Homo sapiens: one gene and its partners. The protein of the gene in region 3 purifies or fractionates together with the protein of the main gene of each other region. This does not show direct contact. Each region holds a gene or a part of one and is shown on either strand. Other genes may lie near its edges.

Region 1 (7,029 bases), on a different chromosome or scaffold from region 3:
AGGCCCCAGAGGCTAAGGGGGGAGCCCCTGTTGTGCGTGTCCCTCTCGGTACATCTGAGTGTCAGTGGGCTGGTCGTGGGGCGCAGGGGTGTAGCAGCCCCTAGCGAGAGGGGCAACGCCTGTTCTCGGACCACAGAGGATGCGCTCCAGGCACCCTTGATCCTTCCAGAGCCCACGCAAAAGATGGGCTGAAAGCAACACACTCAGCGTCAGTTCAGACAACAACCCCAAGCAGCCAGATGTGACTCCCAGAAACGAGCCCCCAGGATGCCACAGCAGCAGCAAAACCCACCTGGGGCAGCCCCCAACTCCTGCCCACGCAGGGCAGCCCCCAACCCCTGCCCACCTGGGTGCCCAGGCCCCCACCTCCTTCCTGGTGCGGCCGGCCTCCCACGCCTGCCTCTCCAGCTCCAGCTGCTGCTTCAGGGTATTCAGCTCCATCTGGGGGGCGGACATAAGAGGCCAGTCAGTCCCACCCCGTGCAGCCCCCTGGCCAGGCCCAGCACAGCCCTCCGGTGGTAGACCTGGTGCCGGCGCTCCTGCTCCTCCCTGCCCTTCTCAAACTCAGCCCTCAGGGCTCGGGTCAGTGCAGAGCTGCTCTCCTCCAGCTGCTGCCTCAGCTCTTCCAGCTCCGCCCGCTGCCTGCGGCCAGGGAGGAGTCAGCAGGTGAGGGGTCATCGAGTAAGGAGTCAGGGATGGGAGAGGTCAGCGGGTGAGGGGGCGGGGGGGAGGGGTCAGCCAGCGAGGGGTCCCTGGGAGAGGGCGTGGTGCCCCCGGGCGGCACCTGGCTGCCTGCTGGCCCAGCCGCTCCCTCTCCTCAGCCACCTCACTGTACAGCCGCTGCCGTTGCTGCTGCAGCGCCCACTGCTCCTGCTCCAGGTGCTGCTGGAACCTGCGGGACGGTCAGGACTGGCTCTCGGGGGCCGGGACGGGCGGTCCCAGGACCCACCCACCGCAGGGGCACGGGCCGACCACAGGCCTGACTCACAGCTGGAGAGCAGCCCTCCGGGGCCCTGCCCCTCCCCCTCGGCAGTCAAGGCCCCTCAAAGCCACCGCCCGGGGGCAGGCAAGGCCACGAGGAACTTGCCCATCAGCCAAGCGCAGCAATTCCCTGAGCTCCAGGCCCTCGTGGCACTTTGGGAAGTGGCTGTGGAGCCGCGTCCAGGCCCCCTTTTCCCTCAGCCCGTGTGCCGGCCTCACCCTGTTCAGCATTGCCCCACGGGCATGGAGGGCGGGAGGCAGGTGCCTCGTGGGGCCTTATCCACCTCCCCTGCCTCCGGCCTGAGGGTGCCAGGTGCCTGGCTCCGTGACCTGAGCAAGCTCGCGCCAGGGCCTCGTCCTGACCCCACCTTCGAGGAGAGACTGGGGGACCAGCCAAGCTGCATCTGGGGAGGACCAGCCACGACAGGCAACAGGGTGGATAGGAGAGGGTGGCTTCCAGGCTGTCCTGGTGGCGCAGACAGTGCAGGAGGGGCTGCCACTGCCCCCTGTGGCCCGCAGATCCTGACCACCACTGGGCACGTCCCCAGCCCCCAGGGCTCAGGACGCAAGAGCAGCAGTCACCCCTCAGACCCCAGGCCAAGGGAGTGAATGAGAGAGACCGTCCCTGGGCCCCAAGGTCAGAGCTGGAGGGGCCTCGAGGCCGCCTATCCACGGGTTGCTGCTCTGGGGCCAGTTGTGAAAGAGTGGATGTCTGGTGGGGGTTCCCAGCCCTGACCCTGGGAAAACACCCGTGCACCCATGCAGAACCTGCAGACCTCGGCGGGCATGAACTGCAGACACAAGCCCGAGGACACTGGCCCGGCTGAGGCTGGGCCCCCAAGGGCCACTCCAGGGCCAAGGGCCCTGCGTCCTCCCTGCATGCTGCACTAAGACCCTCGCCCACCTCTACATGGGAACTCCACTCCAGCCTTCGAGGATTCCGACTCCCCGCCCTGAGGGTCCTGGCCCCACCGGCCTGGGGCCACCACCCACCGCTGCCGAGCACGTTCGCGCTCCTGCTGGCCCAGCGCCTCCTTCTCCCGCTCCAGCTGCTCCCGCAGCTCCTCGGCCTGGCGCAGGCAGCGCTGCGAGGCCCGCTCATCCGACTGCAGCAGCTCCGCCTCGTGCAGGCTCTTGAGCCTCCGCACTTCCTGCTTGTGCCTTGCAATCAGCTTCTGGATCTCGGGCTCCAGACCTGGGGGCGGGGCACCAGCTAGGGCCACGTCCAGCTAGGGTGGGCCCGGGAAGTCCAACCCTGGCACAAGACCAGCCTGTCTCAGGCCCAGAGGGGACCCCGCCCACCCAGGGCCTCCTTGGATCCAACCCGAAGCACAGCTGAGTCTTGACGCCCACGAGGTGGGGAAGAGACCCCCACAGGGCCACGGCGCCTCTCCCAGCCTGTGGGGCTCAGGGCTCCTGACACTCCTGGTGCTACCACTGACGGCTCCCAGGCACCCTGGCAGGTGTCCAGAGCGAGAGGACCAGGCCTCGGGGAGCCCTGCACATCACCCAAGGGTCCGAGGCCCCTTCAGACCACAACACCCACCAGCCTCCTGCCCCATCCGCCTGCCTGCCCCTGCCTCCTCCTGTGGCTCACTCTGCTTCCCGTGGCAGGGCCCACGTGCCACAGTCGTCCACAAACTCCCAATCTCCCCTAGCCCAACCCTGAGGAAGTGAGGCACTGAGCCCCCTCGTTTCAGGCAACTGCCTAGATGCTGGGGGCTGGGCCAGGCTCCTGTGTGGAGCCCACCTGCCCCCCGGGTCACGGCAGAAGCCGCAGCGGAGGCCGTGACGGGGGTGGTTGGGGCATGAGTGTTCACCTCTGCCCAGGAAGGTCTCGGACTACATGAATGCCTGAAGTTATGGCTCTCTCAAAAGAAGCCCTGGCCGCAGCACCCACCCCACACCTGGCCGGCTCATGGGAGGGGAGGGCCCACCTCGGACAGTGACCTCCTTGATCTTCTTGGTTTTCTCACTGATCCACTTCTCCCGGCGGGCTTTCTCGGTGGCGCTCATTAATTCTTTGAGTTTTTTAATCTCCTACGAGCAGAACAGGGCAGGAGGAAACGACACGAAGGACACCCCCGTCCCTTTGCCACCCTGTGGGCACAGTCAGGGCCGGGCTTCCAGGTCCACCAGCACAAGGCCGGCACTCATGGTTGGGTGTGCTGCCCCGAGACAGAGCCACTGCTGCCCTCCCCAGCGCCCGGGGCCAGGCTGGAGGCCCAGGCCCACCCTGCCACACACCTTGGTGGCCTGAGACATGGGAGGGCAGCCATCAGCCTGCAGAGGCCTTGCCCCAGAGAGGGGTGCTGCTGCCTGTCGGGACGGCCCCAGAGCCTGCATTCTTCCATGGGACTGGCAGTCCTCAACCCCGGCTGTCAGCCACAGTCACGTGCAGGGATTTTAAAATGCCAGTGCCAAGCCCCACTCCAGAACCTGGGCTCGGGACCATCACTGCCCAAGCTGGTGGGAAGCATAGCCAGGGAGGCTGAGGCCCCCAGGGAGCTCACACAGCGGGAAGGGGCGGGGAGTCAATGCTCCACCGACACCTGGTCAGTAGAGAGAGCAGGTCCCATGGCCCAAGGACCTGGCAGTGGGGCAGACCAGGCAGAGGCTCCTGGGTCCACGGCTACCGTGCTGTGGCCGGGCAGGGACTGTGCGTCCACATCTGTGACAGCAGGCCCACGGCCCCGCCCCAGAGCCTGGCAGCTAGAGAGGCAGGAGTGGACCAGCTCGGTGCCACGGTGCTCCCCCAGACAGCCCCACCCACCGCTGTGGCCCTGACACACCGAGACAGGAATGAGGACTCCAAGTCCGGTCCTGTTCTGGGGGCTGTGCCAGCTGAGCCTGGCCTGTGAGCCGGGCTTGGGACGCCGTGCAGTAGGGAGCAAAGCCTCACCAGCTCGTGCTGCGCCTGTGCCTGGGCCACACGCTCGGTGCATCTCTGGTCCTCCTGCTTCAGCTCGGCCACCACAGCCTCGCACTTTTCACTCAGGACCTTCTTGTCCTCAATCAGCTGTGTTGGGGACCGGAGGTGAGGTGCTACACCAAGGCCCCAGCCCAGCAGGACCCCTGATGGAGGAGACCCTCCCAGCCTCCGAGGGAGGCTAACAGCAGCCCTCCCCTGGGGCTGCCCCTCCTAGGTTTGTGGATGGACCCTGGGGCCAGTGGGGGGGCACGTGTGCAAACACGGGCCCAGGCCTGCATCCGCCGTCCTGTCCTCAGCTGGGGGACCCGGCGAATGTCAGAGAAGCCCCAGCCCACCCCCTGCAGTGATGTCAGGGTCTTCCTGGGATGAGGGTAGCTCTGCCGAGGCCATCACCCAGCCCTGGAGGAGGCTCACTGTCTGCCAAAGGGTGTCAGGACCACACCAGCCTCACTGCCGGCCCCAGGCCAGACCCCAGGTCAGGACACACCTGTGACAACTATCAAGCAGCCCTGGAGGCCCCTATTCTCACACACCCCAGACCAACTCTAGGTCTCTTCTCTTCAGAACAGGAGCCAACCGGGGCTGCGACTGAGCTGAGGGGCCGGCAGGACACCCCACTACACTCACACGGGGCGGCTCTGGATAAAGACAGGAGTGCCCTCTCCAGGGCATGCATGGCTGGGAATGGCATGGGAAAGGCTTGGAATGCGTCCAGCGGACACCCGTGTGACACCCAACAGAGGAAGAAGCTCCCTGGCAGTGGGAAGCCCCTGGCTCTGGAAGTCTCCATGAGCCACGCGCTGGGTCCGGGCCTCTGCGCTCCCCGGGCCGCTCACCTGGTCAATGAAGGCCAAGTGCCGCTGGATGGTGGCCTCGTAGTGCTCCCTCTGCCGCTGCAGCTGCCGGCTCAGCGCCTTCTCTGTCTCCTTGACCCGCCGGGCCGTGAGGTCTCGCTGCTGCGCCTGCAGGGTGTGGGCAGAGGAGGGAAGCGCTAGGACCGGTGGGCCTGGCCTCAGCAGGTAGGAGGCTAGCAGGGCCCGGGATTAGCAGTGCCAGCAGCGTTACCAGCGCTCTCTGCAGCAGCAGCATGGCCTGCTTCTTCTCCTCCACCTCCAGCTTCAGCCGCATCACAGACGTGCTCACCTCGGACCCCAGCTCCAGGGGCCCCGGCCCCGCCTCCGGCACCCACCCCTGCAGACACAGCCGAGCGTCAGGCGGAAGCGGCAGAGGACGGGGGGCAGCCAAGGACCTGACACGATGCCCCTGCGGCCCTGCCCTCTGGGGACAGAGGGGCTGCTGCACACGGGAGCCCGTGGGAAGCCGGAGGGCAGGTGGCAGGCGGCCCAGCAGAGGTCGTTTTCATTGCTCAGTACAGGAAATGGGGGCCGTGGCCTCAGGAATAAAAAACAAACCATTTAAAAAGTTCTATGCTGCCCAGCTTCCTGCCCTGTGACAATAAAGTTCACGTCACTGCTCCATTTAGCCTGGCCGCTAGTGTTCACCCAGGACAAACCAACCCAGAGGACAGCAGGGCTCCAGAGGGCTGAACTATCCACACATATGGGCTCGTGGAGGCAGCTCGGGGCAGCGGGTAGGTGGGGGCAGTATGGGGAATGCGGGCCCTGCCACCTCCACCCTGAGAGACCCGTGGGGGGTGCTGCATAACTAGGTGGGTACATGGTGAGGGACCACCTCCTGCTGGGGGCCGGGTGGGGGCTGGCGAGAGACCTCCTCCCCCTGGGGGCCAGGTGCGGGCTGGTGAGGGGCCTCCTCCCCCGAGGGCCAGGTGCAGGCTCGTGAGGGGCCTCCTCCCACTGGGGGCCGGGTGCGGGCTGGTGAGGGGCCACCTCCTGCTGGGAGTCCAGCTGGTCCTGCCCAGACTTCTCCATCTCGTCCAAGAAGCTCATGATGCTTTGTAGCTTGGCCTCCGATAGCAGCGTCCCATCCTCAGGAGGTTCGGGGAACGCACTGAGTTTTCCAAATTTCTCCAAGTTGTCAGCTGTCAGAGAGCTGGCGTCATCCTCCTGTGGGACAGGAGCCCAGCATCGGGGGCTGTCAGGGCAGCCTGAGGACTTGGGTTCCCCAAAGGCAGAGGTGGCAGCTGAGGCTGGGCTCTGGGAGGGAGGGTTGTGACTAAAGCCAGGAGGAGCCTGTGGCATCCCCATTTTCCCAACCCCCACAGCCACCGCATGCTCTGTGTGAATGGCGTGGGTGGACAGACTGTGCAGGGCGGGCGCACACCGTGGTCACCTCGCTGGCCCAGGCGTATCTGCCCCTGTGATGGGTCCTGGGGCGGGGCAGCACGTCCGGCTCCTTCTCCAGCAGCTGCAGTGTGTGCAGCAGCTCCTCCAGTGGCCCCCTGGACTTGGCGCTCCCCCTGCTCGGGGCCATCATCTCCAGGTTGTCCCCAGCTGCATCCTGGGCAAGAACGTCCTGCAAAAGAGCAGGGAGACAGATGCAGCAAGGCTGCTGGTAGCTGAGAGCAGCCCCCACATAGGAGGCCAACCGCAGAGCCCCAAAGGCGCCGCGGGAGCTCCCCAGTCCCGACATTCAGCCCCAGGAAGGTGAGGCCAGGGCTCAGACCTTCCCACCCGGTCTCTGCAGCTGCTCAAACCCAGAGCAGCTCCAGCCACCAGGGGACTCCTCCCAGTGCCCCACTCCAGGAAAACAGGAGTGCAGCCACCTGGCCCCACCATTGAGCAGCCTGGGAGCCTTGGCTGTCAGGTCACCCCTCAGAGCCGGAAGCTCCTCTTTTGTGGATGAGGATGCAAGGCCCCCCACCCCAGGACATCTGCAAAAACCCAACTGGATCCACCCCAGCAAAGGCTCCCCAAGAGGCAGCCAGCACCATGCATCAGAGCAAGAAGACACCTCCTGGGTGGCCTCTCTGAGCTTAAGTGGCCCCTAGAGCAGAGGAGGGGCTGGGAGAAGCTCAGCTCAGGACACCCCTGGCACAGACATGGCCCTTAAAGCCAAAAACCATGATGGAGTGAAGGACAGCTGTGCTCAGACCTGCGTCCTGTCCTCTGGAGGCTGCTGTGGTTCTGGGGATGAGTCGGAGGTGGGCAGGCAGCGGTCTCCGGGGCCTGCAGCAGGGAGGCCACCACCTGCACAGC
Region 2 (6,960 bases), on a different chromosome or scaffold from region 3:
TACCTGGGAGGCTGAGGCAGGAGAATGGCATGAACCCGGTAGGCAGAGCTTGCAGTGAGCTGAGATCGCGCCACTGCACTCCAGCCTGGGCGACAGCCTGAGACTCCATCTCAGAAAAAAAAAAAAAAAATCCACCTCCATGATTTAAAGAAAACCAGCAAACAGTAAAATTTCTTTTCTCAGGCTTACATTAGAGCTTACAGAGCTGCAATCCCTTGGAAGTGGGGAGGTGCCTTAATACAAAAATTTAAAGGCCAACATATTCACTTTTCTTTCTTCTTCCGATTATTTTGTTCATTCCCCATTACCCTGAATGAAATATCTATGGTCTATTCTTTCAAAATGACTACTCTGGGCAGGACGCGGTGGCTCACATCAGTAATCCCAGCACTTTGGGAGTCCGAGGCAGGCAGATCACCTGAGGTCAGGACTTTGAGACCAGCCTGACCAACATGGTGAAACCTTGCCTCTACTAAAAATATAAAAATTATCCAGGCGTGGTGGCTGGTGTCTGTAGTCCCAGCTACTCAGGAAGCTGAGGCACAAGAATCGCTTGAACCCAGGAAGCTGAGGTCGCAGTGAGCGGAGATCATGCCACTGCACTCCAGCCTAGGCAACAGAGCCAGACTCCGTCTCAAAACAAAACAAAACAAAAGACTACCCTGATCCCATCCAAATTTTTTATCTCCCTGATTATGAAATTCTCTTTCGTCTACACTGTCATCCTGTCTGCCTTCAATGATTCAAATGTTCTTCTAAAGAACCAGATTGCCATTTATGAACTCCTTTTTAAGGAGGGAGTCATGGTGGCCAAGAAGGATGTCCACATGCCTAAGCACCCAGAGCTGGCAGACAAGAACGTGCCCAACCTTCATGTCATGAAGGCCATGCAGTCTCTCAAGTCTCAAGGCTACATGAAGGAACAGTTTGCCTGGAGACATTTCTACTGGTACCTTACCAATGAGGGTATCCAGTATCTCCGGGATTACCTTCATCTGCCCCCCGGAGACTGTACCTGCTACCCTACGCCATAGCTGTCCAGAGACCGGCAGGCCTCAGCCTAAAGGTCTGGAGGGTGAGTGACCTGCGAGACTCACAAGAGGGGAAGCTGACAGACATACCTACAGATGGAGTGCTGACAGACATACCTACAGATGGAGTGCTGTGCCACTTAGTGCCGACAAGAAAGCTGAGGCTGGGGCTGGGTCAGCAGCCAAATTCCAGTTGAGACGGATTTGGTCGTGGACGTGGTCAGCCACCTCAGTAAAATTGGAGAGGATTCTTTTGCATTGAATAAACTTACAACCAAAAAAAAAAAAACAACAGTTCTTCTAAGTAGACTTATAAATCCAAAAAACCTTATTTCTATTTCAGGAGTTTTTTTGTTTTGTTTTGTTTTTTGAGACGGAGTCTCGCTCTGTTGCCAGGCTGGAGTGCAGTGGCGTGATCTTGGCTCACTGCAATATCCACCTCCCGGGCTCAAGTGATTCTCTTGCCTCAGCCTCCCAAGTAGCTGGGATTACAGGCATGGGCCACCACACCCAACTAATTTTTGTATTTTTAGTAGAGATGGGGTTTCACCATGTTGGCCAGGATGGTCTCGATCTCTTGACCTCAATGATCCGCCCGCCTCGGCCTCCCAAATTATTTCAGGAGTTCTTAATCTTTTTGTGCACGGACCTCATTGGCAGTTTGGTGAAGCCTATGGTCCCTTTCTCAGATTTCTTTTAAGTGCATAATTAAATACATGTGATTACAAGGGAAACCAATTATATGGAAATATTAGCAAAACAACAAACTAATATGGTCATAATATATGTACAGCCTTATTATCACATTAAATAACAATGTCTAACGGCGGGTCTAGTAACACCAGAAATTCAAAGAAGTGTTAACCATAAATGATATTCTGAGCTATCTGCAACTGTAAACATGATGCAAAAATATCCGTAATTTTTATTGATCACAAAGTCATAGGCGCTGCTAATGCTACTCTGGCTTGTTGTCCACATTCGTAACTGAAGGAAATAATAAGTTTCAGTTAGCAGTCAATAAAAATAATGATGTCATTTTATCCTCCTTCTAGTGAAAGGACCCTTCTAATTCTATCCATCAATGAACTCCAGTTTAAAACCCCTCTCTAGTTCAAAGTCCTGCTCAGAACTGATTTTCGTCATAAATTTAAAAATAAAAACACTGATTCCTCCTTTGACCTAGTTCTCATCTGAACCTATCACTATGTCTCCCTGTTTTTATGCACATTTATACACAGAACCCTGGGTGTACTTCTGTGGTTTGCCTAGCCAGCACTCACTACAATTTTGCCAGTCAATAAAAGGTGAAGTTAAAAGAAAAGGGATGGAAACAACCAACAGCTCCCTCACTTTCAGACCTCCGACAGCAAGTGGAAAGATGCCAAGTACAGTGAGTGTCTGTGTTAGGTGGGCTGCCCCCAGACCCGTGTGTCCAGCTTGTCAAGCTTCCCTGCAGCACGATATCTTTATCAGCGACACTCAGAAGACATTCCATTTCGTTCTCGCCTCCTATACTCAGTTCCCTACCTGCCGGGCCTCTCGTCTCTGGCCCCCACCCGAGGCCGCCCCGCGGTCCTCCTGTCCCTTCCCATCCCATCCCCCACGCGTCTCTCCCTCTCCTCAGCCCCAGGCCGCCCTGGCTCCTGCGCGCCGCCACATCTCTCCCCTGGGTCTAACCCAGTGTCCCCCGACCCCCACCTCGCCCGACACTGACGGGAAGAGCCCAGGACCCCGGGGTCAGTTGGACCTGACGGCCGGGCAGTCAGAGACAGGCTGCGGCCCTAGGCCGGAGCAACCCGGCCGCGAGGCAGGGAGCCGCTCACAGCCCGCGGACTAAATCGGGACGCGTACTCACCAAGGGGGTCATGCGGGGGAGGACACGGAGGACTCTGTCGGACCGCCACTCGGCCTCGGAGCCGTCGCCCTAGCCGGTGACTGCCCCCGCCGCCGCTGCCGCCACCTTCGCCACTCGCCTGTTGGCTTCCCTGCGTCCTGCAGCGGCGCTGCCGCCACGCCAGCGCGCGTGCGCAGCGCCGCGGGGGCCTCTGGGAGCTGTAGTTCCGCCCGGGCGGCTAGGGGCTCCCACTTCCGCCTTAGGCAGCCCTAGGTCAGCTGCCCCCTGAGGCTGTCGTGGGTGTCCGGGTCCGGAATCGTCTTCCGGAAGGCTGTTCACCAGGCCTGGGCCCTGGTTTCCGCCTGCAGTAATGCTGGACGTGAAGAATCCGACTGAGCAAGTATGTGTAAAGCAAAAATGTAGAGCGTTTTATGCTTTCTGTGACAACGCTCAGTTGCCCAGGACACATTATTCGCATGAATGACTCTCTCTCTTCTCTGTTTCTCTCTCACACGTACGCACACACTACTTACAAACCTCCCTTCCCTTTTTTTTTTTTTTTCGAGACGGAGTCTGGCTCTGTCGCCCAGGCTGGAGTGCAGTGGCTCAATCTCGGCTCACTGCAAGCTCCGCCTCCCGGGTTCACGCCATTCTCCCGCCTCAGCCTCCCAAGTAGCTGGAACTACAAGCGCCCGCCACCACGCCCGGCTAATTTTTTGATTTTTAGTAGAGACGAGGTTTCACCGTGTTAGCCAGGATGGTCTCGATCTCCTGACCTCGTGATCCGCCCGCCTCGGCCTCCCAAAGTGCTGGGATTACAGGCGTGAGCCACCGCTGCCGGCCCCTCCCTTCCCTTTTGTTCTAAGTGCCATTAATTGGTTTGGATGGTATCTGGATTTTCAGTGTAAAACCTGCCTTCCCACTTCTCAGTTTCTAAAATCTTGCTTATCATAAACTTCACCATGCAGTTATTTTAGGTAAGTCAATAAATGAACTGTCTAATAATTTTTGTAACACCATAACTCATATATTCAGAGGTCAAGTTAGCTGAGTTGAACAGTCTAGAAACCTTAAAATTGGAAGATACCTGCTTAAAGGTCACTAGTGCAACTGTTGCCCAGGCAGGAATTCCCTCCTGTACATTCAGCCAGATGGTCATCTTCCTGTTCAACAGTTCAAATTTCAGGGAGCTCACTCCCTCAAGTAATGCAGCCTGCTCCACTGTTGGACAGCTCTAAATGTTAGAAAGTTCTGCCTCCTGCTGAGCTGAAATCTGTTTCCCTTTATTTCCTTCCATTGCTGGTAGTTAGGCTGCCTGGAGCAATACAGAATGTCTTCCACTTGACAGATCTTCAAAAAATTGAGAACAATGATTATATCCTCCAATACTGGGAGTCTCCAGGCAAAAAAAGGAAAAAAGTAATAATCATTTCCCCAGCTATTTCAAATGTCAATCAACTCCCAAACTGCTTTCTATCTACTCACCTCTCTTGATGTCACCTTTAGGGGCATGGTGGCATATGCCTATAATCCTAGCACTTTGCGAGGCCAAGGCAGGAGGATTGCTTGAGCCCAGAAGTTCAAGACCAGCCTGAGCAACATAGTGAAACCCCAACTCTACAAAAAATACAAAAATCAGCGAGGCATGGTGGCTTGCACCTGTAGTCCCAGCTACTAGGGAGGCTGAAGTGGGAGGATCACCAAGCCCAAAAAGGTCAAGGCTGCAGTGAGCTGTGATCATGCCACTGAACTCCATCCTGGGCAGCAGAGTGAAACCTGTCTCAAAACAAAACAGCAACAACAACATTGACAGAATTGCTTCATATTTATTGCCTTGTTTTATGACTACATAGGTAGTAATAGAACCACCTATGGTAGGCTGGTCAGATGTTATTGCTATCGTGCTGCCATTCAACTCATTCAGGAATTCAATCAGCTCTGTTACAAGACATTACTCAATGCACCGCTGGCATGAAATAAGCAAGAGGAGGCCGGGCGCAGTGGCTCACGCCTGTAATCCCAGCACTTTGGGAGGCCGAGGTGGGCGGATCATGAGGTCAGGAGATCGAGACCATCCTGGCTAACACGGTAGAAACCTGTCTCTACTAAAAATACAAAAAATTAGCCGGGCATGGTGGCAGGCGCCTGTAGTCCCAGCTACACGGGAGGCTGAGGCAGGAGAATGGCGTGAACCCGGGAGACGGAGCTTGCAGTGAGTGGAGATCGTGCCACTGCACTCCAGCCTGGGCGACAGAGCGAGACTCTGTCTCAAGAAAAAAAAAAAAAGAAAAGAAATAAGCAAGAGGATACAATTTACAATCTAGGGTAGGATGAAACTGCCACAGATTAAGGATCATCATAATAAGCCAAGGTACAAAGCATTCTGAGATTCTCAGAGAGAATGGCCTTTTCAAGTTGAGGGTTCATGACCTTATGGAAGAGGTGACAGTTAGGAGTTACTGGATGGCTGGATTTCAAGACAAGAGATGGCATTCGTGGACTGCTAAGGAAGAACTCAGCCTTAGCAAAACCACATTCACAGTGGGCTCTGGAACACTGCGTCTGGGTAGGCTGGAGCACCCAGGCCAGGGAGGAAGGGAAGGAGAGGCCCCAAAAGTTGCAAAAGAATCTTCAGGGAAGCTGCATTGCATGTGAGAAGTAAAAAAGGAACTAGAATGGTCAGTTAATCTTCTGAGCCCTGTTCTGTCACCTACAAATGAAGAACTTGAACTAACAAGCAATTTTCTTTTTTTTTTCCAGTCAGCACACTCAAGGAATTCAAATCTCCTGCTAGAACTATGGATCACTACAACAGTGATTCTTGGGAAATATGGAATAGGTATTATTTTCATCCCTTTTACAAATGGGAAAGTAAACTCAAGAGGTGAAAATTTGCTCAAAATCAATAAGTAGTACTCACTGAGGGCAGATCACTGTCTCCCTAGAACCTGGCATACTGCCTAGAATGTAATGTTTGTTTTTTGTTTTTTAAATGAATGGATGAATACACAGTAAACTCTGTCCAAAGCCCCTTTCTTTCCATACACAACTCAGTCTTCCCTGACATAGAAGGATATGAAGTTACTTGTTCATGGTCACAAAATTCATACTGGACCTTGTGTAGAGTTTAGTTCTTCAGCCTCCCAACTCCATACTCTATTAAACTACTCTGCCTTAGAATCGCAAAACATTTTTTTTAATGTTCTTTTTCCTTCTATGTGTACACAGCCAGTCTTAGAAGTAAGCCAAGAAAGCAGATGCTATGGCCAAGTGATTTAAGGGGCCTCTGGCAAGTATTTCTGGACAAAAAAACACTTTATCCCCAGGTCCCTCAAAGGCCCCCAAACTTCATCACTTATATTGAATCACAAATGTTAACTTGAGGTGAAAATTTAAACCAACACATAGTCCCTGAGGGCGCAGACTCCATCTTATTCACCACTGGGCGTACTGCCTAGAATGTAATAATTTGTCTACATTTTTATTTTAGAAATAGGTCTTGCTATGTTGCCCAGGCTAGAATGCAGTAACTATTCACAGGTGCTATCGTGAGGGCTCAAGGGATCCTCATGCCTCAGCTTCCTGAGTACCTGGGACCACAGGCTTGCACCGCTGTGCTGGGCTCGCCTGTTTGTTTTTTGTTTTGTTTTGTTTTGTTTTGTTTGAGATGGAGTCTCACTCTGTTGCCCAGGCTGGAGTGCAGTGGAATGATCTCAACTCACTGCAACCTCCACCTCCTGGGATCAAGCAGTTCTCATGCCTAATCCTCAGCTGGGATTACAGGTGCACGCCACCATGCCTGGCTAATTTTTCTTTTTCTTTTTCTTTTTTGAGACAGAGTTTCGCTCTTATTGCCCAGGCTGGAGTACAATGGCACGATCTCGGCTTACCACAACCTCCGCCTCCCAGGTTCAAGCAATTCTCATGCCTCAGCCTCCCGAACAGCTGGGATTACAGTTCGGGCCACCATGCCCGGCTAATTTTTTTTTTTTTTTTTATGGAGTTTCGCTCTTGTTGCCCAGGCTGGAGTGCCATGGCGCGATATCAGCTCACCATAACCTCCGCCTCCCAGGTTCAAGTGATTCTCCTGCC
Region 3 (7,580 bases):
TTGAACCCGGGAGGCGGAGGTTTTGGTGAGCCAAGATCGTGCCACTGCACTCCAGCCTGGAGATAGAGCGAGACTCCGTCTCAAAAAACAAATAAACAAACAAACAAAAACAAAAATTAGTTGGGCATGGTGGCACGTGCCTGTAATCCCAGCTACTCAGGAGGCTAAGGCAGGAGAATTGCTTAACCCAGAACCGGGAGGCAGAGGTTGCAGTGAGCCGAGATCACACCACTGCACTCCAGCCTGGGCTAGAGCGAGACTCTGTCTCAAAAAAAAAAAAAAAAAAAAAAAGAAAAGAAAAAAAAACAGCTAACAGTGTTGGCTCGGAGCTGGAGTGTACCTGGGCTTTAACCTTGGCTCTGCCACGTATTTATCATGTGCTCAGAGACAAGTGACCTAAACTGACTTTACTCAATTTCGTGTCTATAAAATGGGAATAATAATAGGACCCCTCCCATAGGGTTATGAGAACTAAACACATTAATGAATAGCATGCCTAATGAAGTTGTATTATTCTCATTTTATAGATAAAGAAACTGAGACATATAGATTAACCAACTTGCCCAAGATCATTTAGTAGCAGAGTCAAATTCGGTCTATAGAAATCAAAAGTTCATGCTTTTCACTATTGTTACATTGTTTCCAGTATTAGCTGATTCGTTTGTCCATTAATTGGATATTAGCATTTAAATAAAAAGTTGATAAGGAAAAAATAAAAATAAAACATTTTCCTTTGTAAAATTTTCTTCTGGGGGTGCTGGGGAGTAAATTAGCTACAAAATCAATTACAAGGAGAATGATTAAATATAAAGAGTTAAAAACAGGAATATAATTTCCAAGTGCTCTTTTCCAAATATTATCGCTGCAAGGTTTGAACAGGAGAAAGCCAGTAGAGATAAGAAAAATCAAAACTGAATAAACTTGATGTTAAATCAGCTTCTATTTCTTCTTGTCTTTCCTCCCATTTTCTCCAGTTGCCATGCTACTCCTGAGGATCTAGGATAATACTGAAAGAAGCACATATGGGGCACAAGATTTCTAGCACTTTAAAGCTTAATGCTTTAAAAGTATGTTTTGAGGCTTCTTTAAAAGTTTATGGATCTTGCCCAGAGCTGGAGTCGGAGCCCCCGAGGCTGCCGCCGAGAGTGCCCGCGAGCCCGTGGCCCAGCCGAAGCTCTTTCCCGCCGCCTCTCCGCGCCTCGTCCCCGTCCAGCCCCACCCAACCCCCAACCCAGCCTGGTCCCCTGACCCTCAGTCTGGCCCGGTCTGGCCTCCCAGCAGGGTCACGCAACTGCCCCGGGGACGATGAAAGGAGGATAAATGGTGCCCAAGGTGGACAGCGGTGCCTTCCTGCTGCTCTTCCTGCTCTTGCTGTCACTGAGCCGTTGCGGCCAGTGGGGACCCTCTGCTGAGACAGGCTCTGTGTCCAGCACCTGCTCCGGGTCACGCTCTGGGGGAGTAGGAGTCGCACGACTGTCTCAGCCTTGGATTTGACTTTGGCCTCATCCACCTAGGGGCCACGGGAGAACCATGTGGGTTACCAAGTTCAAGGGGAGAGAGAAGAAGCTGATGAAAATAGAGGCTCATCTGGGACTGCCTTCCTTCTCTGGCTCCACCCTTGACTTCTTCAGAGCTTGGGCTTTAAGCCGTGAGCTCCATCTCATTCCCTGGGCCGCAAGAAGCTCACTGGGCCCGCGTCTCTGGAGGCTGTTGGGGGGGCCCTTCCTCTGTCTCCATAGTCGACGGCTTGCTGGGGAAACCCAGGATCTCCGACTGCCTGGACATTTGCATTGCTGTCCCCTCGGGTTTTGTCTCAGGCTGTGCCTGGGGCTGTGCCTCTCCCTCAGGCTCCAGCTTGGTGGCAGACTTCTTGTCAGAGCCAGGTTCGGGGGTCCACAAGGGTTCAGTTCCCCGGGAACTCTCCCCCTCCTTGTTGATGGCCACAGAGGGAGATCCCCGTGCCTTGGGCTGCATCCAGCAGTGGCTGAGGATCTCGTCGATGTGGAGCCGCCGGTTGACGTCGGGCTGCAGCATGTGGTAGATGAGGTCCTTGCACTCGCCTGTCAGGTGCTTGGAGCGTGGGAAGTTGACGCGGTGCTCCTTCTGGATACGCAGCATCTTCTTGATGTTGGAGTCGTCGTAGGGCATGGAGCCGCAGACCATGATGTAGAGGATCACGCCTAGGCTCCAGATGTCGTACACCTTGGGCTGGTAGGGAATGCCCTGCAGCACCTCTGGGGCCGCATACGCTGGTGACCCACAGAAGGTCTTGCTTAATGCCATTCGACCACTGTCATCCCGCAGGCAGCGCTTGGAGAAGCTGAAGTCGGACAGCTTGATGTTGAAGTCCTTGTCAAGGAGAAGGTTGTCACACTTGAGGTCCCGGTGGACGACGTCCAGGTCGTGGCAGTACTTGATGGCCAAGGAAAGCTGGTGGAACTTCTTGCGAGCTTCGTCCTCATGCAGGGCTCCCCGGGTTTTGATTAACTCGAGGAGGTCGCCCTGGACCGCGAGCTCCATGACGATGTAGACCTTGCCATGTGATGTCTCAAAGATCTCGTAGGTCTTAATGATGGAGCAGTGGTTTAACATGGCCAGAATCTCAATTTCCCGGGGAAGGAATTTCTCCAAGAAGTCTGCGGGGGCCTTCTTGCGGTCGATGATCTTGATCGCCACATTGAACTTCAGGCGCTCAGAGTAAGCAGATTTTACTTTTGCATAGGAGCCCTCTCCTAAATTTATCCCCAGGAGGTAGCCTCGTCGCTTGAGGACAGCAGCGTCATCCATGGTGCCAGGAATGCCCAGTGCCTCTGAGGCTGCCCTCTACAGCCCCGAGGCGCATGGGCCAGCAGTGTGCTCATTTACATCCTGGATAGAGAGTCCTTTGGGCTGGCCAGGCCTGCTGTTCCTGCCTCCTAGAGGCCAAGACTCTGGAGTGGAACATTTGGCACTGTCTCCCAGATGACTTCAGCGAGTGAAGTCACAAAGGAGGAGTGCCCTGGGGGAATGAGACCCTGGCCTGAGGCACTTGGACTTGGAATCCTGGAAGGCTGGCCAGTAGGCTGGAGCAGACAAGATGAGCAGAAAGTGGCCTCGTGTCTTGCTGGGACCTGAGGTAGAAGGGGACTGTGTGGGACACATGGGCCTGCCCATGCTTCCAAACCCAGAGCCAGGCATACTTGTGCAGAATTGAGGCCAATTCTTGCAAACCAGGGCATCTGAGGAGGATTTAATAAAGGGACAATTAATAAAGGTGGGAGCAGAGTGTAGGGAACCCTGAGGGTCACACAATTACCCCAAGATAGTAGCAGACCCCTGGCCTGCATAGAAAAGGGTGGGAATGGTCCCTGGAACCCAGAAAGAGTAGTGTAGACAGGACCACCTTGAGAGAGGCAGTGGCCTTCAGGGGAGAAAAAGCCAGCCTCAGTGACCCTACAGGCTGGCAGGGGATGGGAGGAAGTCCCATCCCTGACTTCTTTTTCTCCCCTTCAGCCCTTGATGCTGTCCACACAGGTGACCCTCAGGAGTGCAGAGCAGGGCCAAGAAGAGTGGTGTGTCAAGAAGGTAGACAGCTTCCTGGCCCCGGAGTCACGCAGTTTGAGATGCCTGGATTCTGCCGCCTCCCTATACATCTCTTCCCTTGTCTGAGCCTTTGCTGGCTTCTTACAGCAGCTCTGTAGGAGGACAGCTGGCAGGAGTTCTGCTCTTGGCTGTGAGCTCCCTCCTGGGGACCTGCCCAGCTCACGGCCCTGGCTGGGCTCCCAGGGCATATCTGGGGCTGGGGGCTGAAGGTGGGGCCTGGATGCCACCCTGAGCACTGGCAGCTGCTCTGAGGACATTACAAGCAGCAGGGGAAGCACTGGACAGCAACCATCATTTCTTCTGGCAGTGGAGCCTCTGCTGTGACTGGTTCTGTGTCCAGCACCTGCTCTGGGCCACACCGTCAGGAAGAAGGAGTTGCATGACTGTCCTAGCCTTGGATTTGACTTTGGCCTCATCCACCTAGAGGGAGTGAGAACTCCTTCCTCACATGAGCCAGGTGGAACCCTGGGCCCTTCAGGAGTGAGTTAGTAGAGCTGGATGTCGCTCAGGCTGGGTTGGGTCACCACCAGCTGTGGCCCTTCTCCCTTTTCTCTGCTCCTTCACCTTGTTCCCCAACTCTGACTGCCCACTGCCAGTCCTTTGTGCGTGGTTGGTGCTCCTTCCTCCAGACAGCCTCCTTCTCCTTCCTGCTGGGGAAACCCCAAGTGCTGTCTCTTGGAAACCAAAAATAAAATTCTAATCTCCCCAGCCATCTGAATGGACCCCTCTTCTCAGCCAAGGCCATTCCAAAATTAATCTGAAAAACTAGTTCAGGCCATGATAGAAAGTAGGGGTCAGGCAGGCCTCATCATCCCTCCTCCCTTCAGGTTTCAGGCACAGCTGAGCAGCAGTAACATCGACACAGAGACCTGAAGACTGACAACAGACTCTGGCAGTAAGATACAGCAGGCTCTGAAAGAAACTGAAGTATTTTACTATCAAACAGATTTCTTTGACATATTTTGAAATAGCTCTGCAAAGCTGTCTCTTATGAGGAAAATCTACATTCTGTGAAGAATCCCCTTCCCTTTCTAGCTCTTTTCTCCTGAGATAATTAACTAGAGTCTGATAAGAAACATTTAACAGTGTGTTTTTTCTGAAGCCTGATACCTGGAGGCTTCATCTGCCTAAGAACCTTGGTCTCTACAACCTCTTACCCCAGAGACAGTCCCTTCTATTGATTCCAGGTCTTTAGATAAACTCTCTGAGCCAATTGCCAATCAGAAAATCTTTGAATCCACATGACCCAGAAGCCCGCCTCCCACTTTCAAGTTGTCCCTCCTTTTCTGACTGAACCAATGTATACCTTACATACACTGATTGATGTCTCGTGCCTCCCTAAAATGTATAAAACCAAGTTGCAGCCCTATCCCTTTGGGCACTTGTTGTCAGGATCTTCTGGGGCTGTCCTGGGCCATTAGTCACATATTGGCTCAGAAGAAATCTCTTCAAAAAAAAAAAAAGTTTATCTATATTGCTGTCTACAATGAAAAATATCCAATGTTATGTTTACTCTTTGTAATTAAATGCTAAAAAATTTATTTTGGTCCCAATGCTGTTTTCTTTATTGAGTTATCCTACAAAGGCAATAGGGAAAGATAAGCAGAGGCAAATGCAAGAGAGAGCAGGGAAGACAGCTTCTTGCAAATTGGGCTTTCTCATTTGTGTGTCCCCTGGCTGCCCTCAGCACAGAGCTTTACACACAGTCATAAACACTGGCTGAGTGATCATCGCAAAGAAAGGGAGAGAAAAAAAATTCATTTTCCTCCATTGCTCCTTTACCCCTGTTATGTTCTATGTCTTCCAAGGATAAAGACAATGAGGTATGAGGTATTCACTCAAAATGATAATTACCTTGGGATTATGTAGAAATATTGTATCTAAAATCCTAAACTGACAGGATCATTTATTTGCATTTTACAAAAATCTGGGCAACAGATGATACACATACACTCACACATAGACATACAAAACACCTGGAGATGAAGGAGAAATAGTGCTGCACTTGAATTATTTCTATTTTGGCTCAAAATTCCCTGAGATATATTTCTAAAATCTACTCGGCAGTTTCTCCCACCCCCTTTTTGTCTTTTGATTCTTTAGATGCTTTAAATTCAAAAGGCTCCTTATCTATATCCCAGATAGTTGAGTTATTTGAAAGCCCTGACCAAGGCATTTTATTATGGATTTGGTTGCTCTTGGGTAGAGTGAATAGGTAAATATATGCTGTACAGGGAATTTTGGCAGGAGTGGTAAAGGGCTCCAGCTCCCTGCTTCACATCTCAGGTCTGCTCCTTCAGTGCCATGTGGGATTCTCTTTGGATACCATCCCATAGGTTGGGAAGGCATCCTAAAATCGATGCTGAAGTTGTCAGTATCACCAGTCTATGGGACCTAGTGAAAGAGCAAGCAGAACTCTGAGAATCTGGGAAGAAAAGCAGTTTTCTAATGCAAAATGCATGAGAGGAGAGCCAATCCTTGGTCCTAGGGCTCTGACAACTCATTTTGTGACCTTAGGCAAGTGACCTGTGTTTCTTTCCCCTAACTTTCCTTATTTTTGGGTTGTGGGGGGAGTCTTTAACTAGAAATTGTTAAGGTCCTATAGAATGACACCTAACTTTTTTTATTCTATATCTAAAGACATGTTATCAAGGGTTCCATCTGCCGTACGGTGAGTTGTAGGAGCTGAGGCAATTAAGAGCATCAGACACGGGGCAGATAAATCTGGTTTTAAATCCCAGGGGCCACATCTTATTAGTACAGTGTGACTCTCGGAAAGTAACTTGATCTGTAAAATAGATGAAGTTATCTAATTTACCTAGTTATCTTACAGAGGCAATAGGAAAAGTATATAAGGAAAAAAGGTATGCAAAATAGGTATGCACTTTAAAGTGATTGTGAGGATTAGACATGGTGATTCCTGGTATATCACCTCTTATGACATCATAATGGTCTAAAGCAGAGGCATTCTACTCCATTGGGCCCAAGTTATGTACAAAATAATATTCAGTATAATATAGATCTATTATACCTTAGAATATCCCAGACGGGATCCTGTAAACTATTTTCTAGTATCTGTTAAATACTTTTCTTAACACTACTAAGCACTACAGGGAAGCTAAAAACACTACGACATGGCATCACCTTCTAAAAATTTGTTATTTAGTTGAAGAAACCACTAGAATATAGATATGAATGTCATAATATATAAAATATGAAACTTAAGTAGATTTTTTAAAGTACTGATTTTGCAGTAAATTGCCTAAGCTTATGGGAGAGAAAAAAAATCAGAGGGCTGGGGTTGCCCAGGAAGGTGTTAGAGCTTCCTTGGGCAGGATCCCCTGGCTGGGAGGTCACCCAGGATACGGTGTTGAGGCAGTGTCTTCTAAGAGCACAGTTCCTGAAACCAAAGGACACCAGGAACATAACAATGCAGGGTCAAAGTCTGAGCTAAGGAAACAAATTTTGAAAACCAGGTTGAAAATTCCAAGAGATCAGACAGAAATGTTTCCATGGTTTAATTTGGAAAAGGTATAAGGAGCCTGGGTTGCTGACCAGTTAGGCAGGCCAAAGCTGGAGTGTCGGGGAGCAAGTCTGGTGGTAAACAGCAGGCTCAGAGTGAAGTGCCAGTCAAGTCCTAGACCTGGTTGTGGAAGCATGCTGAGTACATTTCAAGTGGCTCACAAAGGACAATTGGAGGGTTTCACAGAGGTGATGAGACACACGAGGCCTTGAAGCAAAGGTAGATGTACATAGGTGATACAGGAAAGGGAAATGGCATTTGAACAAAACACAGAGAAATGAATGAATATGGCCAAGAACAAACCTTTATTAGATGACAAATGCCTTGGAAAAGATAGAGATGAATATAACATGGTCAGTACCCTCAGAAGGTCTCTCAGTGTCCTAGCCTACCTCACAACTTGAAGCACTAGGAAGCAAAATCCAATGGCCAGTCGTAAGTTTTCTGCTAGAGACTCATGTCACTGAAGATAGCT
Region 4 (7,068 bases), on a different chromosome or scaffold from region 3:
CCACAGAAATTAAGCTGTTGATAATGAAACCCACTAGTTACAGACTTGAGAAAAATCAGTTTTCTTTCCTCTCCATCATAGTAGACAATATCTGTATCAACAACTTTCAAGAAAAAGCCTGAGTTACTTCTGACTTCAAATATACATGTTATCATCAAAACCTATTTTCCTCTATTATCACTTATTCCAAATCTGTAGCTGCCTTTTCATTCCTTCAGCTACATCCTTGTTCCTGGCCCTAGACTTTTCCCCCTAGACTACTGTACCTCATTCTCATGAGACGGCTTCCCCTGACTGTCTTTAATTCCACTGTCAATGTTAATGTTACCTTCTCTCTAACATTTTACCTATGCCACCTACCCATTCCACTTCAGCTTTTCAAGGCCTTTACATTGCATTTTTATTTAGCTCAGAAGCCTCATCATCAACTATATATTTATTTATAAAGTGGCTGCTGACTTTCAACTCCCCTTAAAATTGACAGTTTCTTCTTGACCTAGTAAATGTATTAAATTCTCCCTTCAGGTAGTCACATTCTCTCCTAATCCATCTGAATACGGAATTTCTTTTGCAGTTAACCCCAAACTCATAGGTAATGTATTTAGAAAAGTTTTGCACAATAATTACATACAATGTTTCTTCATTTGTTTGCGTATCAATGTTATCCATATTAGACTGTAGGGACACCAGATAAGGGCTGCATCTTTCAAAGCAGTCTGTACAACACCTATCTGCTATGTCACTTCACAAAGGTAAGTTGATTCGTTAAATGAAACTATTATTTAATGGAAAGCTTAAGTAGAAAATGTTCATTTTAAAAATGTTTCTACGGTTTAACTTTTAAACATCTATGGCCTTTTTTATTTCCACAGACAACTGACATATTTTGGTTTCTCACTACTCTATTATTGTCAAAGAATGGCTGGAATTTAAAGTGCAAGTTGAGGGTAGATAAAAGATATACACTTTGACATCCCACCATCAGATTATTCGAAAATTGGCAATGTCAGCTCCAGGAATTCTGAAATACAACTGAATCTTCACATACCCAAACAGTTTCAGGACCAAAAGAAGAGAACAGCGCACCTTCTGATTTGGGGGTTCCCTTTTCTGCAACTGGTTTAGACTAGTTTCTCTATCCAAGGGTCTTTTAATTAGGAAAATTCAATTAATCACCATCGATATACGGAAAGAATACCAGGGAAAGGCAATCCTTTACTTAAAAGAGAAAAAAGGAGGCTTTGGATATCACCTTTTCATAAAATTCAGCAGCTAAATTAAGCTTTGCACTCAATATCTGCCGGCAGTCTCAGACATTTTTTTTCTACCTAATAATAAAAGCAAGTCTTATTCAATTTAGTCCCTTCTCGAGCACCGTCTCGACCTGTCAGAATTTGACAGTTAAAGAAAAAATTAAAAAAAGAAGTAAGGGAAACACTAGGATTCCCGTCCACACTGCTTCTTTTTCCGAAATCACATCACTGAGTCTTGGATTTCCTTCACTCCAAACTAAGCCCTCAGATTCCAAATATAGTTCTTTAACCCCCGTCTCGCCACTCAATTACACATAAACCTTGCCAATTACAGAACCACAGCAGAAACCCCTACAAATCCGCTTGCTGTTCATCTTGGAAGTCATGCCCTGCAGCAACTGCCGATCGCCGAAGTGACGGATATTAACCAAATTCAGCGCAACGGAATCAGACATGCAGAACACACACGGCTTTCGCGAGGGAGGGAAACGCGACCCGGGAAAAGTGCGCTCCTCACCAGCCTCGGGACGCTCTACCGGGGTGGGGGTTCCCAGAAAGGAGGGGGAGAGGAGCCCGAGTAGGGGAATCCTGCCCTCTCAAGTAAAAAGCTGGATCCCCGGCAGCAGGCTGCAGCCCGTCCTCGCTAAGGAAACGACGAGGCAGACAGAGGGCCTTTTGCGCGGAAAGGCAGAAGGCAGACACTTTCCGAGGTCCGGACGCAAGCCGATCCCCCATCCCCCGAGGGAGGCGAAGGGTGCCCCATGGGTGGCTGAGGGGACGCCCGGCCCGCGAGGGACAACCCGAGGAGGAGCAGTTTCATCTGATTAACACCTGAGTCTCGTCCAGGCAAGCACAGATACTGGCGTGGGGCCGCCCAGGTGGGGGGAAGGGAAGGAGAGGAAGGGGGTGGAGATGGGATTCCCCCCTCTCTCTGAAGAGCACTAGCGGAGGATGCGCCCAGGCCAGCCGAGAGCGGCATGCTTCAGACTGCGGAGCCGGGATCCCGCCGCCTGCACCGACAGCGCGGAGCCCCGCAGCGCCCTCCGCACCGGCCCCTCGGTCCCCGGGGGCCCAGGACTTTGCTTCCGAAGGCGCTGGGGCCTAACATCCCACGGGGTCGACCCCGGCTCCTGGGGCCTGGGGGAGGGGACCCGCGGGAACACCCCCAATCTCCGGCGGTTCTCAGCGGTTGTAAAATGCACCCCCGCGGTTCCCTTCTTCAGCCTTCCCTCCTCCCGAGGCCGCAGAGAAGGGCCACCACAGGCGAAAAGCCTAAGGCAATGCAGGGACAGCAGCCTCATAGGTCCCAGACCTCCTCCCCCGGTTACCTGTAAGGACTCCGACACGGATTTGATGGTCGTGGTTAGTAAGGATCATTCCCTCGGTCGCCATGTTTCCCAGCGCAGTCACCGCACTGACAGGAGCCGGGAGAAACCGGAGCCCGGAGCGCGCGGGCCGGGAGCGCGCTCGCCGAGGAGAGCGCGACAGCTAGGGAGCCAGAGAAGCGCGAGGAGAGCGGGGAAGGAGGGGGAGGCCACAGAGTGCACGGTGGCCTGCGTGGGGGAGAGGCCGCGCCGGGAGTGCGCGGGTCCGCGGGAGGGGAAGGAGTCAGGGCGCGCGGCCCCAAGTCCGGCAAGAAGGAGGCAAGCTTGGGGGGCGCGGTGGCCGCACGGGGAGAGCGCGCGGAGGCGGCAGAACGAGGCCGGAGAGTGTCGGAACGCTCTGCGGAGCGCGAGACCCAAGGCAGCTAGATGGCAGGACTGAGAGGAAAGGATAGCACACGCTCTGGAGGTTGCGGGGGCGGACTCGGGGACAAGGGCGGAGCTACACCCCTAGGCGTGGAACTCGTGGAGAGTGAGGGGAGGAGTGAGAGCTCGGGTGCTGAGTATTGGGAGCGGGAAGGAGCCGGCCCAGCCTGAGTAGGACCGCGGATCGCTCCTGGGCGCGCGAGTAGCACCGGATTGGCTGAGTGAACGCGGAGCGTGTGCGCGCGAGGCACGAACGCAACCTCGGCCGGGCCCCAGACAGAAGCAATCCCCTGCCGAGCCTGACACCTCGTTGGTTGTCCGCGCCTTAGGCTGGCTCTCGCCGGCGGGCCGGCTTTCTACGCGGGGGCAGCGAGGCTGGCTCAGCACCCCGGGCCTCCTCTTGCAACCCTCGGGAATGGCCGGCCGCCCCACTGAAAGCGCTGGGGAACCGAGAGGTGTCTTAGAAAGCTGCATGAGTGGCAGAACGGTGGCTACTATGACAGAGAGGCCGCCGTGGGCGAAGAGGGAGGTATCCTGTCCTGCCTCGTGCTAGCCGCTGGCTTCCTCAGTGGGCTCTCCCTGAAGGAGGATTTCCGCTTCACCTATGCTTTAGGATTCCATCTCCAGTCAGTGCCTGCAAGACGATCCTCACGTGCGAAACTGAGGAGTCTGAGGCAGGGCAGCTGGAGTGGAGATACCTGGCTTCTCTTCCTCCTGCTGTCCCACGGTTTTGTGGCCTTAAGCCTCTTCGCCATGAGCGCTGCTTTTAGATGAAAAGCATCAATCTCCTTAGCGAACGAGAACGTGTTCCACCTGAACCACAGTCCATTGCCGCGGCGATTTTCATTTCAGTATTCGTGGGATGTGAGATTACCATGAAAGTAGCTTTTGTTGCCATTTATTTCCATGTGCCTTTCATGAAACGTGTTATTAATCACCTGTGGCTATTCTACGTTAGTTTCTTACTATCGTTCTGGACCTTTCAACTTCTGAATTTTAAAAAGTTATATGCGTGTGTGTGTGTGTACACACACTCATATGTATATGTTTTCTCTTCTTAGCTGTAGTAACCTGGAGGCATAAAAGTGAAAAGCAAAGTATTAAAAGATGTATATCAGTGTTTATACACAAATTTCAAAGTCACTTTGATAGGTTTTTTTTTGGTTTTGGTTTTGGTTTTTTTTGATCCGGAGTCTCGCTCTGTCGCCAGGCTCCAGTGCAGTGGCGCGATCTCGGCTCACTTGCAACCTCTGCCTCCCAGGTTCAAGCGATTCTCCTGCGTCAGCCTCCCGAGTAGCTGGAACTACAGGCGCGTGCCACGACACCCAGCTAATTTTTGTATTATTAGTAGAGACGGGGTTTCACCATGTTGGCCAGGATAGTCTCGATCAAGATCTTGACCTCGTGACCCGCCCGCCTTGGCCTCCCAAAGTGCTGGGATTACAGGTGTGAGCCACCGTGCCTGGCCGATTATGAGTTTTTTATTGTTCCGTTGGAACATGAAATTACCCATCCTCTGAAGATTCACGTGCTTATGTATTTCATTTTAAATAATGGGGCCTAAAAGTAGATGATGGATGGAATTGAAGTGGGTAAAATAAATTAATGGCTTTTTTGCTTTTGTTTTTGTTTTTAGTATGTGTATTGCTGGTATTTTTGACAGTAATTAAAAATTTAAGCCAGGTCATGAACTCATTCCCTATCATTGTCACCTTAGATCCTGGTGGCCAACGGGTTGTTAACTAGTTTGAAATGAGAGATAAAGATAAGAAAGTATGTCCAAGAGAATGATTTCCGTTATCTCAAACTAAACATGAAGAGCAAATAGTTGGTTATATTGTTATCTTCCTAACCTATCTCTATTCTCTGCAACACACTCTAAATGATTAGAAAATATCTTGAGCTTATCGTCTGTCTTACATCTATCTTAGACGTAAGGTCTAAACCTGCCCACTAACAGGTTGTGACCCTAAACAAATTTGGGCCTTTTCCTTCATCCTTTAAATAAGATGGTAGACTAAATAAGTACCTTTTAAGTATAGTGGTAGACTAAATAAGCACTCCTTTAATTAGAATATTCTGTAATTATTCATGGAAGAAAACTGGCACTTTATTTCACAAATCAATAATAAGAGGACAAGAGACTAACTTTCTGCATTCATAAAAGGGGTGATGGTTAAATTCATTAAAATTTAAGTGGGAAGGGTGGATATGAATTAAATTTTCTAAAGCAGCAGTCCCCAACATTTTTGGCACCAGGGATCTGTTTTGTGGAAGACAATTTTTCCATGGATGGAGATGGGGAGGGTTGATGGTTTCGGGATGAAGCTGTTCTAGAAAACTGCAGATCATAAGGTATTAGATTCTGATAAGAAGCCACAACCTAAATCCCACGCATCCGCAGTTCACAATAGGGTTCATGCTCCTATGACAATCTAATGCAGCCACTGATCTGACAGGAGGCGGAGCTCAGGCAGTAATGGTTACTGCCTGCTGTGTGGCCTGGTTCCTAATAGGCCACAGATGGGTACCTGTCCATGGCCCAGAGTTTGGGGACCCCTGTTCTAAAGTATATGGAGGTTTATTAACATTCATTATGTTTTACTGACTGTAAGTATTAAAATTCCTAAAAAATAATAATGGAACTAAATTATAATGCTTGTCTTTCAACCGTTTTTCTTAAGTGTATTCATCTTTCTCAAATTCAGCAACCTTTTACAAACCTTACAAAGGAAAAACGCAGTGACTTTACTGTCTAGAGTGAACTTTTACTGATGGTTATTGAATGAATATTATAATATGTACACACTATTACTCTTGTTACAGTGTGACATTCTTCAGAATTCATCCTGGAATCAATATTATGCCAAAGAAAATTTTCTGAAAGGTAGGAGAGAGTGCCATTTTCCAAATATTGATAAATGTCTCAGGAAACATGGGACATGGGGTGTGGTGTGGGTTGGGGTGGGAATTTGTATGTAAATAATTAGAAGTGCCCAGGGAGTTATTCTTTCCATTCTTAGGGTTTTCATCATGAAAACTACAAGAGTTGCCATTAACCATCCAAGACAACATAAAAAAAATAGGTTAACATGTGGCTTTCATTACAATTATCATGGAATGAAACTTTATATTTCAGTAGAAATGAAGTTATTATTATTATTATTATTTTTTGAGACAGTCTTGCTGTGTCAGCCAGGCTGGAATGCAGTGGCACCATCTCAGTTCACTGCAACTTCTGTCTCCTGGGCTCAAGTAATTCTCCTGCCTCAGCCTCCCGAGTAGCTGGGATTACAGGTGTGTGCCACTATGCCTTGCTAATTTTCGTATTTTTAGTAGAGATGGGATTTCACCATGTTGGCCAGCCTGGTCTTGAACTCCTGACCTCAGGTAATCCACCTGCCTCGGCCTCCCAAAGTGCTGGGATTACAGGCGTGAGCCACTGTGACCGGCCTGAAGTTAGTTTTTTCCTAGTACTGGTATATTTACACTTAGCCCACCAGTTAACTCTTAGTTTTTCTGTGGTTAATCACAATTTCTTTTTTTTCTTTTTTTTTTTTTTTTTTTTTGAGACGGAGTCTCTCTCTGTTACCCAGGCCGGACTGCCGTGGCACTATCTCGGCTCACTGCAAGCTCCGCCTTCCGGGTTCACACCATTCTCCTGCCTCAGCCTCCAGAGTAGCTGTGACTACAGGCGCCCGCCACCATGCCTGGCTAATTTTTTGTATTTTTAATAGAGACGGGGTTTCACTATGTTAGCCAAGATGGTCTCGATCTCCTGACCTTGTGATCCACCTGCCTGAACCTCCCAAAGTGCTGGGATTACAGGCATGAGCCACCGCGCCTGGCCCACAATTTCAGTATAAGCAAGGCCAAATCTCATTGGGCTTTTCTGGGTCCAGACTCTCCTCTATGTCTTTTCCTACATGTGCATACCTATGATAAAGTTTAATTATATAGTAGTCACCGTAAGAGATTGACAGAAATAACTGATAATAAAATAGTACAATTATAACAATTTACTGTAATAAAAGTTATGTTAATGTGGGCTCTGTCTCTCAAAATAT

What was found.
Region 1: the proteins of TSSK1B (region 3) and CEP131 purify together in Homo sapiens (affinity purification with mass spectrometry; 3 studies listed by BioGRID and IntAct, with this or other methods). This does not show direct contact.
Region 2: the proteins of TSSK1B (region 3) and GAPVD1 purify together in Homo sapiens (affinity purification with mass spectrometry; 3 studies listed by BioGRID and IntAct, with this or other methods). This does not show direct contact.
Region 4: the proteins of TSSK1B (region 3) and GPHN purify together in Homo sapiens (affinity purification with mass spectrometry; 4 studies listed by BioGRID and IntAct, with this or other methods). This does not show direct contact.

What each region holds. Positions count from the first base shown.
Region 1 is NC_000017.11:81,191,952-81,198,980, forward strand, and holds part of CEP131 (centrosomal protein of 131 kDa), read right to left. Parts: intron 7,021-7,029; coding exon 6,926-7,020; intron 6,347-6,925; coding exon 6,164-6,346; coding exon of another isoform or gene 6,155-6,163; intron 5,938-6,154; coding exon 5,761-5,937; intron 5,105-5,760; coding exon 4,979-5,104; intron 4,876-4,978; coding exon 4,750-4,875; intron 4,001-4,749; coding exon 3,884-4,000; intron 3,022-3,883; coding exon 2,919-3,021; intron 2,177-2,918; coding exon 1,975-2,176; intron 893-1,974; coding exon 785-892; intron 643-784; coding exon 525-642; intron 442-524; coding exon 367-441; intron 1-366. UniProt on the Homo sapiens protein: Component of centriolar satellites contributing to the building of a complex and dynamic network required to regulate cilia/flagellum formation.
Region 2 is NC_000009.12:125,257,889-125,264,848, reverse strand, and holds the start of GAPVD1 (GTPase-activating protein and VPS9 domain-containing protein 1), read right to left. Parts: upstream 3,024-6,960; 5' UTR 2,890-3,023; exon of another isoform or gene 2,889-2,889; intron 1,314-2,888; exon of another isoform or gene 748-1,313; intron 1-747. UniProt on the Homo sapiens protein: Acts both as a GTPase-activating protein (GAP) and a guanine nucleotide exchange factor (GEF), and participates in various processes such as endocytosis, insulin receptor internalization or LC2A4/GLUT4 trafficking.
Region 3 is NC_000005.10:113,432,053-113,439,632, forward strand, and holds TSSK1B (testis-specific serine/threonine-protein kinase 1), read right to left. Parts: upstream 2,938-7,580; 5' UTR 2,788-2,937; coding exon 1,684-2,787; 3' UTR 501-1,683; downstream 1-500. UniProt on the Homo sapiens protein: Testis-specific serine/threonine-protein kinase required during spermatid development. Phosphorylates 'Ser-288' of TSKS. Involved in the late stages of spermatogenesis, during the reconstruction of the cytoplasm.
Region 4 is NC_000014.9:66,504,105-66,511,172, reverse strand, and holds the start of GPHN (gephyrin), read right to left. Parts: upstream 3,027-7,068; 5' UTR 2,646-3,026; coding exon 2,582-2,645; intron 1-2,581. UniProt on the Homo sapiens protein: Microtubule-associated protein involved in membrane protein-cytoskeleton interactions. It is thought to anchor the inhibitory glycine receptor (GLYR) to subsynaptic microtubules.